3 linked regions of the Homo sapiens genome follow. The protein of the gene in region 1 purifies or fractionates together with the protein of each later gene. This does not show direct contact. Each region holds a gene or a part of one and is shown in the gene's direction. Other genes may lie near its edges.

Region 1 (7,311 bases):
GTTGCCCAGGCTGGAGTGCAGTGGTGAGATCTTGGTTCACTGCAACCTCCGCCTCCCAGGTTCAAGCAATTCTCTGCCTCAGCCTCCTAAGTAGCTGGGATTACAGGTGCCTGCCACCACGCCTGGCTAATTTTTGTATTTTTAGTAGAGACGAGGTTTCACCATGTTGGCCAGGCTGGTCTTGAACTCCTGACCTAATAATCCACTCACCTCAGCCTCCCAAAGATCACAGGCGTGAGCCACCGCGCCTGGCCAGACTTTCTCTTATCTAAGTATACCCATGGATTCTGCTGTCTTTTTCTTTTTTTTTTTTAGACAGAGTCTCACTTTGTTGCCCAAGCTGGAGTGCAGTGGCACAATTATGTCTCACTACATCCTCAACCTCCCAGGCTCAAGCAATTCTTACATCTCAGCCTCCCAAGTAGCTGGGACTATAGGCATACAACCACCACACTCAGCTAATTTTTTTCCTTTTCTTTTTTTGTAGAGACAGGGTCTCACTATTTGAGACAGGTTGGTCTCAAACTCCTGAGTTCATGCAATCCTCTCACCTCAGCCCCGCAAAGCGCTGGGACTGCACTAGTGGGTTCTGCTGTCTTTATTCCATTTAGCCTATGTGCCTATTTTTCTCCTTGCAAAAGCATGAACAATAGTTTTATGTTTTACCATCAGGCTTCCTAGAATATTAGGATCTAGCTGAGAGGAAGAAAGGGATCTGTAGCCATGGCTGCAGCACATGTCACTCTCTATTATATGTTTATAGGGCTGAAGGGAAAGTTGACCCTCATGATATTGATCTAACAGAGCCTTCTTGCCAAACTGAAGCTGCCTCTCTCTTCCCCCTCCTCTGCAGAGGCGGTGCCCTGCTGACTTCGACCAGCGGCCCTGGTTTCCATCTCATGCTCCCTTTCATCACATCATATAAGTCTGTGCAGGTATGCTTGGCCTCTGTGGTATGGCTGGACGACTGCAAACTTGGGCTGTTAACTAGTGCATGATTTGAAATTATTTAGCCATTGGATGAGTAAAATGCCATTCTAGAGAATGATATAAGGATAATATATACATATTATATATATATAATATATATATATATACACACATACACTATATATATATAAAATGAGGCTGGGGATTATTCCTTCAAGATAAAGCCAGAGAAGAACCTGTTCTGAGTATATGGAAAGAAAAGTCAGGGTTTATGTGTGTATGTTTTAAATCACAGGCTACCATGTTAAATGGAAAGAAAACATAGTAATTTTGCTGATTCTTATTTGAATTCAGAAATACGAACATAATTTTTGCAGTGAGTGGGGAGGAGTTAAACTAAGTGAGGGGAGGTGACATCTAAAATAGGAGTGAGGTTAGTTGTGGCAGATCTAAAGCCTGGCTAAGTTGGACTTGCCATCTCTGAAGTATGTCCAGCTAAGAAGAATAACAAGATTTTACACTTTACACTGACCCAGGAGAATGTCTTGGGATACCTGCTAGGCATTTTCCCTGTAAGTTTCATGTGCTGTTTACCAGGCTTTGTGGCTTTCAAACTGCATTCAGGTACATTGTCTCATTTGAGTCTTGTAGTAATCCTGAGAATGGGCTGAGCATGTGCTAGGGTCTGAGACAGGTTAAATAGGTAATCTGCTGTTTCAAAACTAGTACAACAGCCCTCCCCCTTATCCACTATTTCACTTTCCACAGGCTCAGTTACCCACAATAAACCATGGTCTGAAAACAGGTGACTACAGTACAATAAGATATTTTGAGAGAGAGAGAGAGAGACCACCTTCAAATAACTTTTATGACAGTATATTGTTATAATTGTTCTATTTTATTATTGTTGATCACTTACTGTACCTAATTTATAAATTAAACTTTATCATAGGTATGTGTTATAGGGTTTGGTACTCTCCCCGGTTTCAAGCATCCACTGGGGGCCTTCGAACATAAAGCGGTGCCTAACATAAATAGAAGAGGTAGAAGCAAGCACAAGTCTTAAGATGCCCAATCCAGTGTCATCTTCACTAAACCATTATTACTCAGCTTGTTGATGTGGTGGTTCACTTATAGTGAGGCTGGGGCACGGGCCTTTACTTGGCTTAGCAACCCTGTGAGGAAGGAGGATTAGGTGGGGTAATCATGTTTAATGAAGGCCATGCTCAACCCAAACAGTTATTCCAGGACAAAGGCATTTAGGATTCTGAAAAGTAAGTTACTTTGTCACTGCCCATCTTCTAGCACTTTATGTTTCCTCTGTTTCCAGACCACACTCCAGACAGATGAGGTGAAGAATGTACCTTGTGGGACTAGGTAAGGTACCCAGAATAAAGCTTTTAAGCCCAAATAAGTCAGAGAAAAGGCTGTCTGGCTGGTTGCAGGAAGAGACAGTGAAAAGGGAGGCACCCTTTCTTGGTTAATTCCCTGTCTCGTAGCTCCCTATATTGATTTGACCAGGTGATGGAGTGCAGTAGAGGAAATCATAGAAGGTTCAGGAGGGGCTAGAATGCTGTATGTGATAAGGAGTTTGCACTTACTCTATTAGAAGTGAGGATCGGCCGGGCGCGGTGGCTCACACCTGTAATCCCAGCACTTTGGGAGGCTGAGGCAGGTGGATCATGAGGTCAGGATATCGAGACCATCCTGGCCAACATGGTGAAACCCCGTCTCTACTAAAATACAAAAATTAGCTGGGTGTGGTGGTGCATGCATGTAGTCCCAGCTACTCGGGAGGCTGAGGCAGGGGAATGACTTGAACCTGGGAGGCAGAGATTGCAGTGAGCCAAGATCACACAATTGCACTCCAGCCTGGCGACAGAGTGAGACTCCGTCTTTAAAAAAAAAAAAAAAAAGAAGTGAGGATCACTAGTCACAATAACAAAGACATGGAATCAACCCAAATGCCCATCAACGATAGACAGGATAAAGAAAATGTGATACATATATACTATGGAATACTATGCAGCCATAAAAAGGAACAAGATCATGTCCTTTGCACGGGACATGGATGGAGCTGGAAGCCATTATCCTCAGCAAACTAATGCAGGAACAGAAAACCAAACACCACATGTTCTCACTTATAAGTGGGAACTGAATGATGAGAACACATGGACACATGGAGGGGAACAACACACACTGGGGCCTGTCAGTGGATAGGGGGTGGGGAGAGGGAGAGCATCAGGAAGAATAGCTAATAGATGCTGAGCTTAATACTTGGGTGATGGGATGATCTGAGCAGCAAACCACCATGGCACACGTTTACCTATGTAACAAACCTGCACATCCTGCACATGTACCTCTGAATTTAAACAATGGAAAATAAAATAAAATTTTAACGTTAAAAACAAAAAAAGAAGTGAGGATGCACAAAGGTTTTTAGCAGATAAATGACCTGATACAAGAAGATAACTTGCATAACTAAAGAGAATGTCATAAAGGTAGGGGAGACCTTCAGGGCAAAGAGATCCGAAGAGAACACTGCTACAGCGGTCCCACTGGAAAGCAAAGACAGTTTAAACTGGGATAGAGTGACAAAGAATACCACAAAGAAACACTCTGACAAATCCGGAATTGGAACATCCCACAAGATCGCAGGCCTGATCTCTTCACAAAGTGGTTGTATTTAGAGGGATGCTGGATTGGACAGAGACTTACAAGAAACATAAACAGAAGCAAGGGTGAGCATTGATTAGAACCTGGTTCAAAATTAACAGCTATAACAGATACGACAGAAACTATATGAGTCCACTCAGGCTGCCATGACAGAGGACTACACACCAAGGGACTAAAATAATAGATATTTTCTCACCATTCTGAAGGCCCAAAGTCCAAGATCCGGGTAACAGCAGGGGTAGTTTTGGTGAGACCTCTCTTTCTGGCTTGCAGGTGACCACCTTTTTGTCACATCCTCACAAGGCCTTTCCTCTGTATGTGCAAGAAGAGAGAAAAAGGTCTTTGGTGGATACCAGACCTTTTGGATTACAGCCCACCCTTATGACCTGTTTAACCTTAATTACCTTCTTAAAGGTCTAATCTCCAAATACAGTCACATTGGGGGTTAGGGCTTCAACATATGAATCTGGGGGCGAGGCATACACAGGTCAGTCCATAACACAAACTGTTGGGGAAATCTGAATAAGGACTGGGTATTAGGTGATATTACAGAATTATTGCTAATTTTCTTAGGCTTGGGAATGATACCATGAGTGTGTAGGAGAATGATTATTCTTAAGACAGTGCTCACCAAAGTAAAGGAGTAAAGTATCCTAACTGCAGCTTACTTTGAAATGTTCAGAAAAAAAAAAGGTCAATAAATAAGGTAAAATGTTATCAGTGTTGAATTCAGGTATCTGGATATGGATGTTAGTTATACTACTCTTTCGGCTTCTCTATGTTTGAAATCTTTTTATAATAAATATTTGAGGGCAAAGGGAGTGTGACACCAAAGTAATAGTGAAGACAGTTTAAGAAACATTGATCATAACATTCCACAGTAACCTTCTAAGTTCTGAAAACTTCACCTTGACCCTCCTTAGTCTTTTCCGTGCAACTGATTAATCAAAAGGCATTGCTGATTCCAAAGATATGAGTTACTCTTTCGTACTGGTCCCCAAAAGTCTCATTCATGTCTTTGTAGAGATGTTCCTAGGCAGTGTGATTTCTCAGGAGAGTATGTTGTTGCCATGAGCCCTGCAGAACCTCCCACTTGGAGATCCAAGCTGCCTTCCAACTTCCCGTGAACTCTTCTACTCCTTTTCTGCCAAGCCCCACATCTTACGCCATCACCCTGGGGGACTGCACCATATTCTAAGGCTTCCCAGTGACTTCTTGTCCATTCTCCCTCCAATAGTGGTGGTGTGATGATCTACTTTGACAGAATTGAAGTGGTGAACTTCCTGGTCCCGAACGCAGGTACGTCTTAACAGTTTATTCCCACCACCAGCTCACTTTCCCCAGCATGCCACTCCCGTGTCTGTTGTAGCACCTTGGAAAAGGAGAGCTGCCGTGTCTGAGGGCATTTTGAGTCTTGCCTTTTCTTATGCCAAGCCCTCTCCTTCCCTCTCAGTGTATGATATAGTGAAGAACTATACTGCTGACTATGACAAGGCCCTCATCTTCAACAAGATCCACCACGAACTGAACCAGTTCTGCAGTGTGCACACGCTTCAAGAGGTCTACATTGAGCTGTTTGGTAAGAAAGTCTCTCCTGAGCATGCCGTGCTTAAGCAGGGTTCCTGGAACCCCGCGTCTCTCCACTGCCTAAAGCCTGGCTGCCTGCAGGGTGTGATGGTCACTTATGGACAGGAAATGTTAAAGAATCTTGTGCTCAGGAGCTGGTCACAAAGGAGTTCATGGAGAATGCTGATAGCTATGCAACAAGATCCTTAGAGGGCTGGAGCTTTGGGCACAGGGACCATAGTGGAGTAGAGTATTCACTTCTGGCCTCAATCAGAGGCTGGAGTGGAAATGTGTTCCCACTGTTCCTAAACTATCATTCTATAATGAAGACAAGGTCCATTCTAGAAGAACCTTAGAGATTGTCCAGACCAGCATCCTCATTTTAAGCTGAGGGTACTGTGACCCAAAGCAAGAAAGTCACAGAGCCAGATGCCAATTAGTAGTGGGGCTGAAACAGGAGCCTTCCTCTCCTGGCTCTTCAGCATTCTTCTCACCATGCAACACTGAATGGAGGGCCCCCAGGAATGGGTGATGAAAAAGACATGATTCATAGTTAATTCTAGAAGTGAGATGAGAACCATAGCTCCTTCCAGTTCTCAGAACCTTTGTGATTATTATTTTTTTACTCTGTACCTGTAGCAACGAATAGAAAAACACTTTAAACAAAAAGATTCCACGTGCCTAAGTAGATATGTTTTGTCCTTTTTACCTTTTTCAAAGTAAAGGCAACCTGACTTAGCAGCAAAGGAAGGACACAGTTGGGTAACTGTTATAACTTGTTTGCAGTCAAGTATTCTGTTTAAACTCACTGCCAGAAATTCTCTAATAGCCAATGCCAAAAGTAAATGAATTTTTAACCAATAGTATAACTGTTCTTGACACTAGGACTGGAAAATGATTTTTCCCAGGAATCTTCATAAAAGGGACCCTGAGCAAGAACATTTTTCATAGCAGACAGGAGGACTCATCCACATCGCCAGCAATCATAATTAAGCAAACCGCCTTTTGCACCATTTAAGATTTAGGAAATCATCCAAATTACTTTTAATGTTTCTGCAGTAGAAAATGAATCTAAATTCATTTTATAGGGTTTGTAGTCTTTTATCTGTTTTGGATTCACTGTGCTTTTAAGAAAAAGTTGGTAAATTTGCCGTTGATTTTTCTTTTTAACCTCAAACTAATAGAATTTTATAAAATATTAATTTTCTCTAGCCATTGTCTTAGGACTTGTGACATTACATGAACATTTCAAAGCACTGAAAAAAGACAAAGGATCCCTAATGTCCCTGAAGAGGAAATTAAAATACAAAGTTGTTTTTCATTAGCAAACTTCTTACTTTCTTACAGCTAAACTTGGTAGCTTAGTGAAGTACAGCTGCTTGTATGGAGGAGCTGGGGAAATATATTTGCTTTGAAACTTTTTTATTTTTACATCTCAGTCTTGCTAGCAAGCACTACTTGGCTTAGAATCTGTCATATCCATAAAGGAGGAGCTCATGTCTCTAGTCCTGGCCCTTCAACTCAGAAGGTTCTTCTATACTTTCCTTCTCTCAGGACTCTTATAGCCCAGACTTTAAACATGAAGCTGCATAATTTTCATCACTTCTTACTCTGCCGCATCCTCTTTGCCCATGTTATTAAAGTATTATCTAATACTTTGAAGTTTACCTGAAGAACCTCTTTGTGTGTACTTAGTAATACAACTTTTTTTCCTGTCCCAACACCTTTTAATACAGTTGAATGGATAAAAACATGGATACAAACACATGGATATAGTTATCACTGAAGCAGTGTGACATAAAATAATACCTATGTATACAACACTCCTCTGTAAATAGCAAATGTAAAGTAAAAGATACACAACAGATCATTTTGTTTATCTCACTATCATTTATTAATCTATAATGTATCCCTCCTATGTATCCATGCAAGGAAGCAATACTAGCTGCCCGACTAGAGGGCAGCTCCCTTGGGTTACTTATTCAGACCCCATTTTCATTCGGATCTGAGCTGTCTTACCCGCTCACTGCAACTTGGCTTTTCCTTCTTTGAGTATAAAGTCTGACATGGGATGGCTCACCTATAGCTTCAGTGTGTTAAGTAAAGAAAGCTTTATGCAGATTCTGGTTTTTAGTGGGT
Region 2 (7,311 bases), on another chromosome or scaffold:
ATTATTTTGAAAGAAACTGGTTACTCATTTTCCTGACTCTAAATAACTTGTAGATTTTGCAGAACAAATTTACTGGAAATCTGCATTAATGTTCAATTTAATTTTATTTATTTTTGTGGCATTTGATAACTATTCAAAAACAATAGAAGATGGAATCCTTTGTAAGGGTAAACATTTGACCTATGATAAAACGTGACTAAGATGAGGGAGAGAGGAAATACATTAAGAGAGTTTCGATCTTTCAAAATGCCATACAGTTTTCTGCTTTTCTCTCTGATATTAGGTATGAGGTTAATTTCCAAAATGGAATAGAATGTGGTGGTGCCTATGTGAAACTGCTTTCTAAAACACCAGAACTCAACCTGGTATGTAATTCCCATTTCTGGAATGTGGCTGGACACCCACTATTACCTTGTAAGAATTTTGTAATTGGGCCGGGTGCAGTGGCTCACGCCTGTAATCCTAGCTCCCAGCACTTTGGGAAGCCAAGGCAGGCGGATCACGAGGTCAGGAGATTGAGACTATCTGGCTAACATGGTGAAACCCCATCTCTACTAAAAATACAAAAAATTAGCCAGGCGTGGTGGCAGGCGCCTGTAGTCCCAGCCACTTGGGAGGCTGAGGCAGGAGAATGGCATGAACCTGGGAGGCGGAACTTGCAGTGAGCCGAGATTGCGCCACTGCACTCCAGCCTGGGCGACAGAGCGAGACTCCATCTCAAAAAAAAAAAAAAGAGAATTTTGTAATAATTGTGAAAATAAAGGCTTCCTCCCCTGCTGTTTAACTCTTTTGATGAGTTGGGAAAATTGACTTTGACGCTAACGTGCTTTTTATTTGAAGTGTAAATTACAAAGTTGTTACCAACTGTTTTTATCTGAATTTCTGGTTTTGCTTCTGTGTAAGTTTTAGTTTTGGCAAGCTTATTTCTTTGTTTTATGAGGAAGCAATAACTGTCTAGATGTGTGCATTACTTTTTTTTAGACACTTAAACGTTATTTTAAATTTACTGATGATTGCTGGTTATTCCTTTTTACTAAACAAACTTGTAGTTAGCTTTTCCTTTAACTGTCACTAATATATTTGGAATTTTATAAGAGGAATTATCATACACTTTTGAAACGTTGCTTTTGAACACTTTGAGTACAGTGACTTCAAATAATCCTTTTTTGTTTTTGAAGGATCAGTTCCATGACAAGACCCCTTATACGATTATGTTTGGTCCAGATAAATGTGGAGAGGACTATAAACTGCACTTCATCTTCCGACACAAAAACCCCAAAACGGGTATCTATGAAGAAAAACATGCTAAGAGGCCAGATGCAGATCTGAAGACCTATTTTACTGATAAGAAAACACATCTTTACACACTAAGTAAGAAAAAGCATTAGTTTGGGGGCTTATGGTATTACATATATATCATCCATTTAATTTAAAGATTGTATATCTGGCCGGGCACTGTGGCTCACGCCTGTAATCCCAGCACTTTGGGAGGCCGAGATGGGCAGATCACCTGAGATCAGGAATTCGAGAACAGTCTGGCCAAAATGTTGAAACTTCACCTCTACTAAAAATACAAATATTAGCTAGGCATGGTGGTGCACGCCTGTAACCGAAGCTAGTTGGGAGGCTGAGGCAGGAGAATTGCTTGAACCTGGGAGGGAGCCAAGATCATTGTGCCACAGCATTCCAGCCTGGGCGAAAGTGAGACTCAATCTCAAAAAAAAAAAAAAAGGCTGGGCGCGGTGGCTCACACCTGTAATCCCAGCACTTTGGGAGGCCGAGGCGGGTGGATCACAAGGTCAGGAGATCGAGACCATCCTGGCTAACATGGTGAAACCCCGTCTCTACTAAAAATACAAAAATATTAGCCGGGCGTGGTGGTGGGCACCTGTAGTCGCAGCTACTTGGGAGGCTGAGGCAGGAGAATGGCACGAACCCGGGAGGCAGAGCTTGCAGTGAGCCGAGATCGCGCCACTGCACTCCAGCCTAGGAGACAGAGCAAGACTCCATCTCAAAAAAAAAAAAAAAAGATTGTATATCTGGAGAGTACCCCAGCCTCCAAACAAGAAGAATCTCAGCCTGGTATGGTTGCTCATGCGTGTAATCCCAGCACTTTGGGAGGCTGAGGCGGGCGGATCACTTGAGATCAGGCATTCGAGACTAGCATGGCCAACATGGTAAAACCCCGTCTCTACTAAAAATACAAAAATTAGCTGGGCGTGGTGTTGAGTAGCTGGTGTAATCCTAGCTACTCGGGAGGCTGAGGCAGCAGAATTACGTTAACCCAGGAGGCAGAGGTTGCAGTTGAGTCAAGATTGTATCACTGCACTCCAGCCTGGGTGGCAGAGGAAGATTCTGTACCCCCTCCACGAAAGAAAAGAATCTCTTCACTTTAGTATCTTAGTTGGGAAATGACCTTAATTTGTCAGCATTAAAAGAAGCTTCTTGGCCACGTATGGTGGCCCACACCTGTAATCCTAACACTTCGGGAGGCTGAATCGGATGGATTGCTTGAGTCCAGGAGTTCCAAACCAGCCTGACAACATAGTCAGACCCTGTCTCTACAAAATCTTAAGAATTAACTGAGTATAGTGGCATGTGCCTGTAGTTTCAGCTACTCAGGAGGCTGAGGTATGAGGATTGCTTGAGCCCAGGAAGTCGAGACTGTAGTGAGCCATGATCTTGCCACTGCACTGTAGCCTGGGTGACAAAGTGAGATGCTGTCTCAAAAAACAAAACAAAAAACCCAAAAAACTTCTTTTCCACAGGAACTGAGGTTCGAGATAATTTTAAGAATAGAATAGGTGTTTTTGGCCAGGCATGGTGGCTCGTGCCTATAATCCCAGCACTTTGGGTGGCCGAGGTGGGCGGATCACCTGAGGTCAGGAGTTTAAGACCAGCCTGGCCAACATGGTGAAGCCCCATCTCTACTAAAAATACAAAAATTAGCCGGGCATGGTGGAGGGTGCCTGTAATCCCAGCTACTCAGGAGGCTGAGGCAGGAGAATTGCTTGAACCCTGGAAGCGGAGGTTGCAGTGAGCCAGATTGTGACACTGCACTCCAGCCTGGGCGACAGGAAGACTCTGTCTCAAAAAAAAAAAAAAAAAAATTGGTATTTTTTGCTGGACATGGTGGCTCATGCCTGTAATCCCAGCACGATGGGAGGCTGAGGCGAGCAGATCACTTGAGGTCAGGTGTTCAAGACCAGCCTGGCCAACATGGTGAAACGTCATCTCTACTGAAAATACAAAAATTAGCCGGGTGGGGTGGTGGGCGCCTATAATCTCAGATACTCAGGAGGCTGAGGCAGGAGAATCACTTGAACCCGGGAGGCGGAGGTCACGGTGAGCCAAGGTCATGCCATTGCACTCCAGCCTGGGCAACACAGTGAGACTCCGTCCCCCACTCCAAAAAAAAAGGTGTTTTTTTTTTTTTTTTCTACAAAGAGCTTTGCTGATCTAATTTCTTCCTTTTTTTTGTTGTTGTTGTTGAGAAATGTTGAATAATAGAATAAGTTATATTTATAATTATACATAAATCCAATAAAAATAGTTTTTCAGAAGTATCTTGTAGTTGAACTTATTTGGATGCTCCAATACCTGGACAATTGACAATTGAGTTGAATCATTTTGATACAGGGTTTTTTTTGGTTTGTTTGTTTATTGAAGCTTTTCCTGCTAGTTTGAGATCATAAATAGGCATGCCTCTTTCTGAAGAATATAATAACCTTTTTTTTTTTTGAGATGGAGTTTCACTCTTGTTCCCCAGGCTGGAGTGCAATTGTGTGATCTTGGCTCACCACAACCTCTGCCTCTTGCATTCAAGCGATTCTCCTGCCTTGGCCTCCCAAGTAGCTGGGATTACAGGCATGTGCCACCACGCCTGGCTAATTTTTTTTTTTTTTTTTTTAGTAGAGATGGGTTTTCTCCATGTTGGTCAGGCTGGTCTCAAACTCCCGACGTCAGGTGATCTGCCCGCCTCAGCCTCCCAAACTGCTGGGTTATAGGCGTGAGCCACCGCGCCTGGACTACCTTTTTAATTTTTTTGAGGCGGAGTATTGCTCTGTCACCCAGGTGGGCGTGCAGTGGCGTGATCTTGGCCTACTGTGACGTCTGCCTCCCGGGTTCAAGCGATTCTCTTGCCACAGCCTCCTGAGTAGCTGGGATTACAGGCTTGTGCCACCATGCCCAGCTAATTTTTCTTTTTTTTATTATTATTATTTTTTTTTTTTTCCAGCTAATTTTTCTGTTTTTAGTAGAGACCGGGTTTCACCATGTTGGCCAGGCTGGTCTCGAACTCCTGACCTCAAGTGATCTGCCCGCCTCAGCTCCTGAAAGTGCTGGGATTACAGGTGTGAGTCACTGTACCCAGCCTAGAATATAACAACCTTTTTTTCTTTTTTTTGTGACGGAGTCTTGCTTTGTCATCCAGGCTGGAGTGCAGTGGCGCCATCTTGGCTCACTGCAGCCTCCGCTTCCCAGGTTCCAGTGATTCTCCCGTCTCAGCCTCCCCAGTAGCTGGGATTACAGGCACACACCACCATGTCCAACTAATTTTTGTATTTTTAGTAGAGCCTTGTTGGCCAGGCTGATCTCAAACTCTTGGCCATCTGTTGATCCGCCCACCTCGGCCTCCCAAAGTGCTAGGATTACAGGCGTGAGCCACTGAGCCCAGCTTAACCTTTTTTTGTTATTTCCAAAAGTAATACATATTTAAGGTATAGAAATTCAGAAGCCATAAGTAAGCAAAAAGAAAACACTTAAAGCGAGGGAGAGGGGTTGAAGACAAGTTGGTTAATTGGTACAGAAATAAGGTAGAAGGAATAAATTCTAATATTTGATAGTACAGTAGGGAAATTATAGTTAGAACAATTTATGGTGTATTTCAGAAGAGCTGGAAGAGAATTGTACTGTTCCCAATACAAAGAAAAAGTAAATGGAGCCAGGTGCAGTGGCTCAGGCCTATAATCCCTGCGCTTTTGGGAGGCTGAGGTGGGAGGATCACTTGAGGCCAGGAGTTCTAGACCAGCCCGGGCAGCATAGTGAGACCTTGTTCCTACAAAAAAATAATTATTCAGGCTTGGTAGCATGTACCTCTAGTCCCAGGTGCTCGGGAGGCTGTGGTATAAAAGGATCCCTTGAGTCCAGGATTCGAGATTGCAGTGAGCTATGATTGGGCCACTGCACTCCAGCGTGGGTCACAGAATGAGACTCTGTCTCTATAAAATAGAAAGAAAAGGTAAATGTTTAAGGTTACAGATATTTCAATTACTGTGATTTGTTTGTTTTGTTTTGTTTTGTTTTGTTCTTTTTGTTTTTTTGAGATGGGAGTCTCTCTCTGTTGCCCAGGCTGGAGTGCAGTGGCCTGATCTCAGCTCACTGCAACTTCTGCCTCCCGGGTTCAAGCGATTCTCCTGCCTCAGCCTCCTGAATAGTTGGGACTATAGGCATGCGCCACCATGCCCGGCCAATTTTTTTGTATGTTTAGTAGAGTTGGGGTTTCACCATGTTGGTCAGGCTGGTCTCGAACTCCCAACCTCAAATGATGGGCCTGCCTCAGCCTCCCAGAGTGCTGGGATTATAGGCATGAGCCACTGGGCCCGTCCAATGACTGTGATTTGGTCATTACACATTATATACATGTATCAAAATATCACACGTACCCCGAAAATATGTACAAGTACGATATGTCAATAAAAACATACACAAAGAAGTCACTTAAAATTATCTTAAACATCAGCATTGTGATATATATTTGTCAATATGTGTATATACACATATACAACTTTACATGCTATATCTAACTTTTTTATTTTTTTATTTATTTTTATTTTTTTTTTTGAGACGGAGTCTCGCTCTGTCTCCCAGACTGGAGTGCAGTGGTGCGATCTCCGCTCAGTGCAAACTCCGCCTCCCGGGTTCACGCCATTCTCCTGCCTCAGCCTCCCGAGTAGCTGGGACTACAGGTGCCCACCACCACGCTGGGCTAATTTTTTGTATTTTTGGTAGAGACGGGGTTTCACCGTGTTAGCCAGGATGGTCTCGATCTCCTGACCTCGTGATTCGCCCGTCTCGGCCTCCCAAAGTGCTGGGATTACAGGCGTGAGCCACTGCGCCCGGCCCTTTTTTATTTGAGACAGAAACACTGCAATCTCCACCTCCCAGGTTCAAGCGATTCTTGTGCCTTAGCCTCCCAAGTAGTTGGGTTTACAGGTGTGCACCAACATGCCCACCTAGTTTTTGTATTTTTAGTAGAGACAGGGTTTCACCATGTTGGCCAGGCTGGTCTCGAACTCCTGGCCTCAAGTGATCCACCTGCGTTAGCCTCCCAAAGTGCTGGGATTACAGGCATGAGCCACCACACCCGTTTCTTAACAACAAAAGAGTGTGAAGTTCTTCCTCACAGAAATATTCATTTTCATTATCACTGACACAGCAGCATAGGATTCCTTGTTTGGATGTGCTGTAACTCAGTCTCCTGTGTATTAGATATCTAGGTGTGGAATCTGGGCTTTAATATACATCACACTTAAGATGCTTTTATGGGGCCCATGTGGCTGGGCACGGTGGCTCACACCTGTAGTCTTAACACCTTGGGAGGCTGAGGTTGGGCAGATTGCCTGAGCTCAGGAGTTTGAGACCAGCCTGGGCAACATTGCAAAACCCCATCTCTACTTAAAATACAAAAAATTAGCTGGGCATGGTGGCACGGGGCCGTCTGTAGTTCCAGCTACTGCGGAGGCTGAGGCAGGAGAATCGCTTGAACCTGGGAGGCGGGCGTTGCAGTTAGCCGAGATCACACCACTGCACTCCAGCCTGGGAGACAAAGCGAGACTCTGTCTCAAAAAAATAAAATAAAATTTTAAAAAATGCTTTTATGGATTTAAAATTGTTTTTTCATTCTCCATGGGAGTTAAAAAGTAGAAAGTAGAATCATGAGTGGACATGCGTTTTAATAAATTGGAGGTTTGTGTAATTTCAGTAACGTAATAATACCAGCTCTATTAAAAATGAAGAAATGGACCTTTTGTACTGGGAAGTAGTTGTAAGTCCACGTATTTGTCTTCTCACTGGTGTATATGTGTAAGCCCAATAATTGTGTTAGTTTATGTAGTTTCTTGTTTTTTTTGTTTTTTTTTTTTAGTGTCTATAAGTCAAGTCTTTGGTGTTAAAGATTTTAACTATCATTTGCTGTAATTCTTAGAAAGCCGAGGGACTAATCATTTATGTTTCGTGCATAAGGAAATGGGCGTTAGCTTCCCCAAGACCCCAGGAGCCAGGCATTGTTCTTACCCCAAAGCCTCAGGTCAG
Region 3 (7,519 bases), on another chromosome or scaffold:
ACCATGAGAATGACCTCATTTCCGACTAAGGAAAAGTTGAACTCTCTCCATTTTTTCCACCTTATGAACCCAACAAAAAGAGCAAAGAGGAATATAATCAGGGAGTTTATCTTAATGAAAGCTGATGGCTTCAATATCTTTTTTCCCACAGTTTAATTGCTTTAGGCATTTATTATTAGCTATGATTAACGCAGAAAGAAGGGACAAAAAGCTCACAAACACTATACAATTTCACAAGATGCATTGCAGGGGGAAAAGTGACTGAGATGGATCAGCAATATCCCAGGGTCTTGGTGGATGCATTCCTGGTGGAAAGGGTCTCATTCCTGGAGGGGGCATGCCTACTGGCGTCCCTCTAGCAAGGGGAAGCCCAATTGGTGGGCCCATGGGTGGTTTCATACCAGGTGGAGGAAACATAATGCCTAGAGGTGGGGCTGCTCTGCCAACAGGTGGGGGTGGAGCCCCCGGTCCTGGTGGGTACTGTGTTGGGGCTCCAGTAATGCTCTTCTCTGTGGAGTCATTACCTGCTGGGATGGTCCCCCAACTCCTGGGACGGGGCCTGCTAATCCACCAGGAGCCTGGGGAATTGGTACACCAGCTGATACTCCTCTACCAGCTGCCCTAACAACTCCAGGGCCTCCTGCAGCTCCAGCAAGTGGTACCCGAGCAATGCCAGTATATTTTGGGGGTAGCCCCTCCACAGTCATGGATACCAAGTTCTCCCCATGCAGCAACACCAGACCCCAAAAGTGCTTTTCTTCGAGCTCTGGTTGCTTCACGTTCTTTGGCTTGATCTTTCTGAACTCATCACAATCGCAGAGGATCAAATTCACATGCTTGTCAAACGCCTTAAAGATGCCAAAGAAGATTGTGCCTTCCTGTAGGATGCATTTCATTCTATAGTCAATGTGCTGCTGCAGCCTTGCTACTCGTGCCCACAGTCGTGATTGCTGCTTCACCAAATCCCGTGTCCACAGTTAAAACTTCGTGCTTCTTAAGACCTGGGGGAAAGCTATAGATAAAGGTATGGTGCAGGTTCTCCCAGAAACAATGCAAGCTGAGGGGGAAACGTGGTGGCTCACGCCTGTAATCCCAACACTTTGGGAGGCTGAGGAGGGCAAATCACCTGAAGTCAGGAGTTCGAGAGCAGCCTGGCCAACATGGTGAAATCCCATCTCTACTAAAAATACAAAAATTAGCTGGGTGGTAGTGGCATGCACCTGTAATCCCAGATACTCAGGAGGCTGAGACAGGAGAATCGCTTGAGCTAGGGAGGCGGAGGTTGAGGTGAGTCAAGATGGCATCACTGTACTCCAATCTGAGTGACAGAGTGAGGTGCTGTCTCAAAAATATATGTATAATTTTTAAAAGTATATTGAAAGCATTGGGTGAGGTGGCTCATGCCTGTAATCCCAACACTTTGGGAGACCAAACTGGGAGGATCCCTTGAGGCCAGGAGTTTGAGACCAGCTTGGGCAACAGCAGGACCCTGTCTCTACAGAAAAATAAAAAATATTAGCTGGGTGTGGTGCGTGCCTGTAGTCACAGTTATTCAGGAGACTGAGGTGGGAGGATCACTTGAGCCCAGGAGTTGAAGCCTGCAGTGAGTTAGGATGGTGTGCCACTGCACTCCAGTCTGGACCACAGGCTGAGACCATGTTTTTTTAAAAAAATAAAAAATAGATAATGGATCGATTGATAGAGAAAGCTCACTCTGTGATGAACCTGTTCCGAGTATCCTCATAACAACTTTTTGAGGAAGGAAGAAATTGGAACACACCTGTGGTTAAACAAGTTGAGTTTATCACTTGTTATGGGGTAAGGGTGAGAGGACATGAATCATGAGAAACAATAGGGCAGCTGGGCTTGGTGGTTCACATCTGTAATCCCAGCACTGTAGAAGCCCAAGGTGGGAGGAACACCTTAGGTCAGGAGTTCGAGACCAGCCTGGCCAACATGGTGAAACCCTGTCCCTACTAAAAATACAAAAATTAGCCGGGAGTGATGGTGGGCGCCTGTAATCCCAGCTACTTGGGAGGCTGAGGCAGAAGAATCACTTGAACCCAGGAGGCAGAGGCTGCAGTGAGCCGAGATCACACCACTGCACTCCAGCCTGAGTGATAGAGTGATACTCTGTCTCAAAAACAAACAAACAAACAAACAAACAAACAAAGGGGCATCTCAGTAACAAAGTGTTACAAAGGACACATAGGATTTGGGCTTGCATTAGGTGATTTGGACGAGGGCTTAAGAAAATGGGGTTTTCTGGATTGGATGCTGCCTATGAGTGAGTACCTTGATAAACATTATTTAGAAGGAGGGAAGAGTAGACCGAGGCTAAATCTATAATCTCTATACAAGCCAGAATAGGGAAATGTTTGGCCATTTTTGTAGTTCGAACAATGCTCATGTTTTGTCTGGGTTTAGACATGATTCAAGTGGTTTTGTTATTGTCTTGATCCATCATGGTCACATAGTGGCTTTGTTTGATGTTGATGTTCTGTGAAGTTTTTATGTTCAATAAGAGAACACACCAAGGTCTATTTGTGAGTGCCAGACCATCTCCTGGATGTCAGGGGCTGTTTTTCTCTTAGCGCTTGGTTTCAAATCCAGGTTTGTGTGACTGGAAACATCCCTTGTATTACTTCTTGATCACAGGAACTTGCAAAGGTGGCTGGCAGACTAGGACTTTCATCTATGAGCTTATTTCATCTACTATTTTTTATTTTTTTTTCTGAGATGGAGTTTCACTCTTGTCGCCCAGGCTGGAGTGCAATGGCACGATCTTGGCTCACTATAACCTCTGTCTCCTGGGTTCAGGCAATTCTCCAGCCTCAGCCTCCCAAGTAGCCGGGATTACAGGTGCCCGCCACCACGCCTGGCTAATTTTTGTATTTTTAGTAGAGATGAGTTTCACCATGTTGGCCAGGCTGGTCTCGAACTCCTAACCTCAGGTGATCTGCCTGCCTCGACCTCCCAAAGTGCTGGTATTATAGGCGTGAGCCACCGCGCCGGCCTTTATCTACTATGTTCACCTCCTACTCAGGTCCGATCCCTAACCGTTCCTGGGATAACTGTAGGTACTTAATAAATGCTTGTTGAATGAATGAAGATGGCTGTCAAGAACTCCAATGACTGCTTGAGTGCAAATCACAAGCTCCATCACCTATCAGTATGTGATTTGATACAATATGTATTAACAGCTAATCCACAATCCATATTCAAATTTCATTACTTGTCCCAATATTGTCCATTACAACTATTCCACCACCACCACTACCCCAGTCCAGGGTCCTATTTAGAATCACACACCACATTTTGTTGTCATGCTTCTTTAGTCTCCTTTAAACTGGAACAGTTCCTCAGCTTTTCTCTGTTTTTCATGACAATGAGTTATTTTGTAGACAGTGTCCTTCATTTGGGGTTCTCTAGCACTTCCTCATGAGATGTGTACGGTGCACTTTTGACAGAAATACCACAGATGTGTTCTCAGTGCATTTTATTAGGAGGCCCTTGATCTGACCCATTAACTAGTGGTGTTAACTTTGATCACTTTGATCTGTTTGTTCTGCTAGGTTAAACCTCTGTAACATCACCATTTTCCCTTTGTAATCAATAGCTAATTTATGGGAGACACTTTTGCTGTTGTAAACATCCCGTTTCTCTAGTTTTACCACACATTATTGATTTCCTAATTCCACCATGTTTATTAGCTAGCATTCTACTAAAAGGAAGACTTTCCCTTCACCCATTAATATGCTCACTTCTTTATGTTTGTAAAGACTCATGGATTACTATTTTATTCAATTAGTTATACTCTATTACTATCACTCCATATTTTGATTCTGAAATTGCCCTGACTTGGCCAGTAAGATCTCCTTAAAGACAGCTCCTGTGTTCTTTGACACATTCCCATGATTCTTATTACCATCATCCTTATATTCTGGTGTAACAAGATGTTCCAAGTTTATCTGGTACTTTCCGGAATGAGTTAGTTCTTTCTCTCTCTCTTTTTTTTTTTTTTTTTTGACGGAGTCTCACTCTGACGCCCAGGCTAGAGTGCAGTGGTGCGATCTCAGCTCACTGCAACCTCCGCCTCCCGGGTTCAAGCGATTATCCTGCCTCAGCCTCCCGAGTAGCTGGGATTACAGGTGTGCGCCACCACGACCGGCTACTTTTTGTATTTTGAGTACAGAGGGGTTTCACCATTTTGGCCAGGCTGGTCTCGAACTCCTGACCTCAAGTGATCCATCCGCCGCGGCCTCCCAAACTGCTGGAATTACAGGTGGGAGCCACCGCGCCCGGCCGGAATCAGTTTTTTTCTTTTAGGAGCCCCGAACCCAAAGCTCTTTGAAAAGCTGCCGAAGCTCCAAGGTTCCTCCGCTTCCTGCCCGCAGGCGGAACCTTAGAGCTTCAGCCATGGAAATTAACCTCTTCCGGTTGGGGCCGGAAGTCCCTCCGAGAGGGGCGGCTCCGCGTCATGTGACTGGAGTCCGCGTAGGAGGGGTCGGAGGTCTTACCCAACAGATTGACGCGGCGTTAGTATTGGCCGTGTACCCGAAAAACTGATTGACTGGGCTGGCGTTAACTGTGCGGAGGCAGGTATGTGAGGGGCTGGGGTTGGGGCGGGGGCGCCAAAGTTTAGGGACGGGGGCGGGAGACCCGGGTCCGCCTTCCCAGGACACACGGGCTTGAACATCTGAGCCCAGGGGCCCAGAGACAGCAAGACCGGTCGTGTCTGTCCCCGAAAAGAGGACGAGCTGGCGTTGTGGTTCTGCGTCCCATGAATACAGATTGGGGAAACTGAGGCCTTGCGAAAGAGAAGGGCTCCCACAAGCTCTCCTTTCGAGGCATGGGCACTGATTCCCATTCTATCCCCCGTGCGAGACCGCCTCTATCATCTGGGAGTGCATTTCACGAGTTTGCCCTGAGTGGAGAAGCAGAGGCCGGGGAGCGCGGTGAACAGAGTTGGGCTGAAAGTAAGAGACCTGGATTCGAGACTTCGCCACCGACAGACAATTGTGCGTTCTGGGCCAAATCTCTTCCCTGTGCTGGGCCTCAGTTTTCTCGTCTCTAAAACGGGGCAGTGTTTTTCAAAATATGGTTCTTACACCATCTGCTTTGTAATTCTCTGAGATGCCGGCTTTACAGCGCGGGACTCAATTCAGACTTCTGGTTTAGAATCTGAACTTATGCGTAGGGGGGTCCTGTATATACTAATGTTTGAAGCTCATTGATTTTAAGTGCTTTCCTGCTGTGAGCACTAGATATCCATTCTTCGCTTTGAGGCAGCTGGTGCCAGTTCAGGAACTTTGAAAGAACTGGAATGGTTAGCTCAGTAAAGAGAGCACTGGAAGGGAATTAACTTTTTAAAAATTGAAAATACTGTTACGGCAAAGAGGGCTTCCACTTCATCTTTAGGCTAAAAGAGGCAGAACTAGGACTAACAGGTGAATTCTACAGGAAGGCAAGATTTTTGCTTAATAGAAGAACTTAAATGGAAGAATCGTCAGAGGTGACCACCGATGGAGTGAATGGATTGCCTCCGTGCCTCCTTTCGAGGGAGGTATATAGGTATTAGATGAAGGTCCTTTCCAACTTGAAAGTCTGTGATTCCAAGGAGTTGTTCTGCATCTTTCTGGTGCTGACTCTGCTCTCAAGGCAAATGTGACTTTTTTCTTCTCTTTTGACACTTCCATCACTTTAGCCTACATCTCCTGTAAATAAGGCCAATGCATCTGACCTTACATAATCTCTTCCTGGTTGTCCTGTGCACCATCCTTCTTTTCAAGGACTTTGGAATGACCCAATATCTGATAGAGGCACCTTAAATGTTTATTGAATGAATAAGTAAACTGGGTCCCACCCCATGGGTTAGTAGCTTTTTTCTAAGAACAAGTTGGAAATGCCTCTGAAGATTTTATGTTTGACCAGGAGAAGCCAGTGAACTCTGAATCACAAAATTGAGGACTCTCAGTTGAAAGCACCCCTTGAGGTTGTTCAGACCAGCCTTCTCTTCCCTGGAACATAATCCCTGCTTGAATCCTCTCTTCAGCAATATGTGTATAGATGTGAGAGAATTTTTGCAGTCTGTTGGCTAGCTTTCCATGCATCATATAAAAACAGTCCTCTTATAGACTTGACTTGCCAGTTCACACACATGACAAGTTCCAGCTTTTTTTTTTTTTTTTTTGAGTATTTAGTAGAGATGGGGTTTCACCATGTTGGCCAGGCTGGTCTCGAACTCCTGACCTCAAGTGATCCGCCTGCCTCAGCCTCCCAAAGTGCTGGGATTTCAGGTGTAAGCCACTGTGCCTGGCCTCTAGCATACCTTTGGTTTTCTAATCAAACATTATTATGTCCTTATTTTGTGCATTACAAAGCTCTGCCTAAATCACTTTTTCAACACCTGCTAGAATGCTTAGGAATGTTTATGTTGTCTTAGGGAGCAGAGGCTCCATATTATGACCCAGTTCTGCTGACTTGCTCCCCCGCCGCCACAAAAGTTAGGGTTGAGCCAAAACTTCCTGCCAGTTATCGACTTGTGTTTCCCAAGATTAAAAAATAAAAAAGTTGTGAAATGCTTATTCAGATGTTATCCAGGTACTGGGTAAAATGATCTTAATTTGTTGGAGTTTTTAGAACTTCTCGATCTAAAAGTTTCCTTTTAAAGAAGTGTCTGAATTGACATTCTCATAAGTATGTTCTTCAGGCCACTGGTCTGAAGAAGTGGCTCTGAAAAAAGGATTTGATGCTAATAATAAGTTTGAGAAAGCCACATACCATTATTCTTTCTTGGAGCTTCTCAATGTGTAATACCACATTAAAACCACTGAGAGGTCCTGCAATAAGGAAATGTGCCTTATAAGCCAAGATAATAACTTGTTCCATTTGTTTAATCTACTTGATGTCAAATCTTTTTTTTTTTTTTAATTGAAGCACACGTTAGCAAATTCTGACCTAGAGTGGGGATCTGCATACTATATATAGGCTGTGAACCAAACCTGGACCTACTGCTTGTTTATATGGTCTGTGAGCTAAGGGTGCTTTTTACATTTTTCTTTCTTTTTTTTTTTTTTTTAAGACGGAGTCTCGCTCTGTTGCCCAGGCTGGAATGCAGTGGCTCCATCTCAGCTCACTGCAAGCTCCGCCTCCTGGGTTCATGCCATTCTCCTGCCTCAGCCTCCCGAATAGCTGGGACTACAGGCGCCCACCCCGATGACTGGCTAATTTTTTGTATTTTTAGTAGAGGTAGGGTTTCACTGTGTTAGCCAGGATGGTCTTGATCTCCTGACCTCGTGATCTGCCCGCCTCAGCCTCCCAAGGTGCTGGGATTACAGGCGTGAGCCACCACGTCTGGCCTGCTTTTTACATTTTTAAATGATGGGAAATAAAAGAAGAATAATATTACATAGGTGACAATTACAGGAAGATAAAATTTCAGTGTTCATTTCAGTCACACCCATTTATTTATATTCATATATATTTACATATTGTCTTTGGGTGCTTTAATGCTACT

The links. Proteins that work in one complex are often made in the same cells at the same time.
Region 2: the proteins of ERLIN2 (region 1) and CANX purify together in Homo sapiens (affinity purification with mass spectrometry; 4 studies listed by BioGRID and IntAct, with this or other methods). This does not show direct contact.
Region 3: the proteins of ERLIN2 (region 1) and RNF185 purify together in Homo sapiens (affinity purification with mass spectrometry; 5 studies listed by BioGRID and IntAct, with this or other methods). This does not show direct contact.

The regions. Positions count from the first base shown.
Region 1 is NC_000008.11:37,739,512-37,746,822, forward strand, and holds part of ERLIN2 (erlin-2), read left to right. Parts: intron 1-853; coding exon 854-935; intron 936-2,260; coding exon 2,261-2,307; intron 2,308-4,843; coding exon 4,844-4,905; intron 4,906-5,059; coding exon 5,060-5,185; intron 5,186-6,057; coding exon of another isoform or gene 6,058-6,092; exon of another isoform or gene 6,093-7,039; intron 7,040-7,042; exon of another isoform or gene 7,043-7,311. UniProt on the Homo sapiens protein: Component of the ERLIN1/ERLIN2 complex which mediates the endoplasmic reticulum-associated degradation (ERAD) of inositol 1,4,5-trisphosphate receptors (IP3Rs) such as ITPR1.
Region 2 is NC_000005.10:179,708,695-179,716,005, forward strand, and holds part of CANX (calnexin isoform d precursor), read left to right. Parts: intron 1-283; coding exon 284-365; intron 366-1,178; coding exon 1,179-1,371; intron 1,372-7,204; coding exon of another isoform or gene 7,205-7,306; intron 7,307-7,311. UniProt on the Homo sapiens protein: Calcium-binding protein that interacts with newly synthesized monoglucosylated glycoproteins in the endoplasmic reticulum. It may act in assisting protein assembly and/or in the retention within the ER of unassembled protein subunits.
Region 3 is NC_000022.11:31,155,702-31,163,220, forward strand, and holds the start of RNF185 (E3 ubiquitin-protein ligase RNF185), read left to right. Parts: upstream 1-4,480; 5' UTR 4,481-4,602; intron 4,603-7,519. UniProt on the Homo sapiens protein: E3 ubiquitin-protein ligase that regulates selective mitochondrial autophagy by mediating 'Lys-63'-linked polyubiquitination of BNIP1.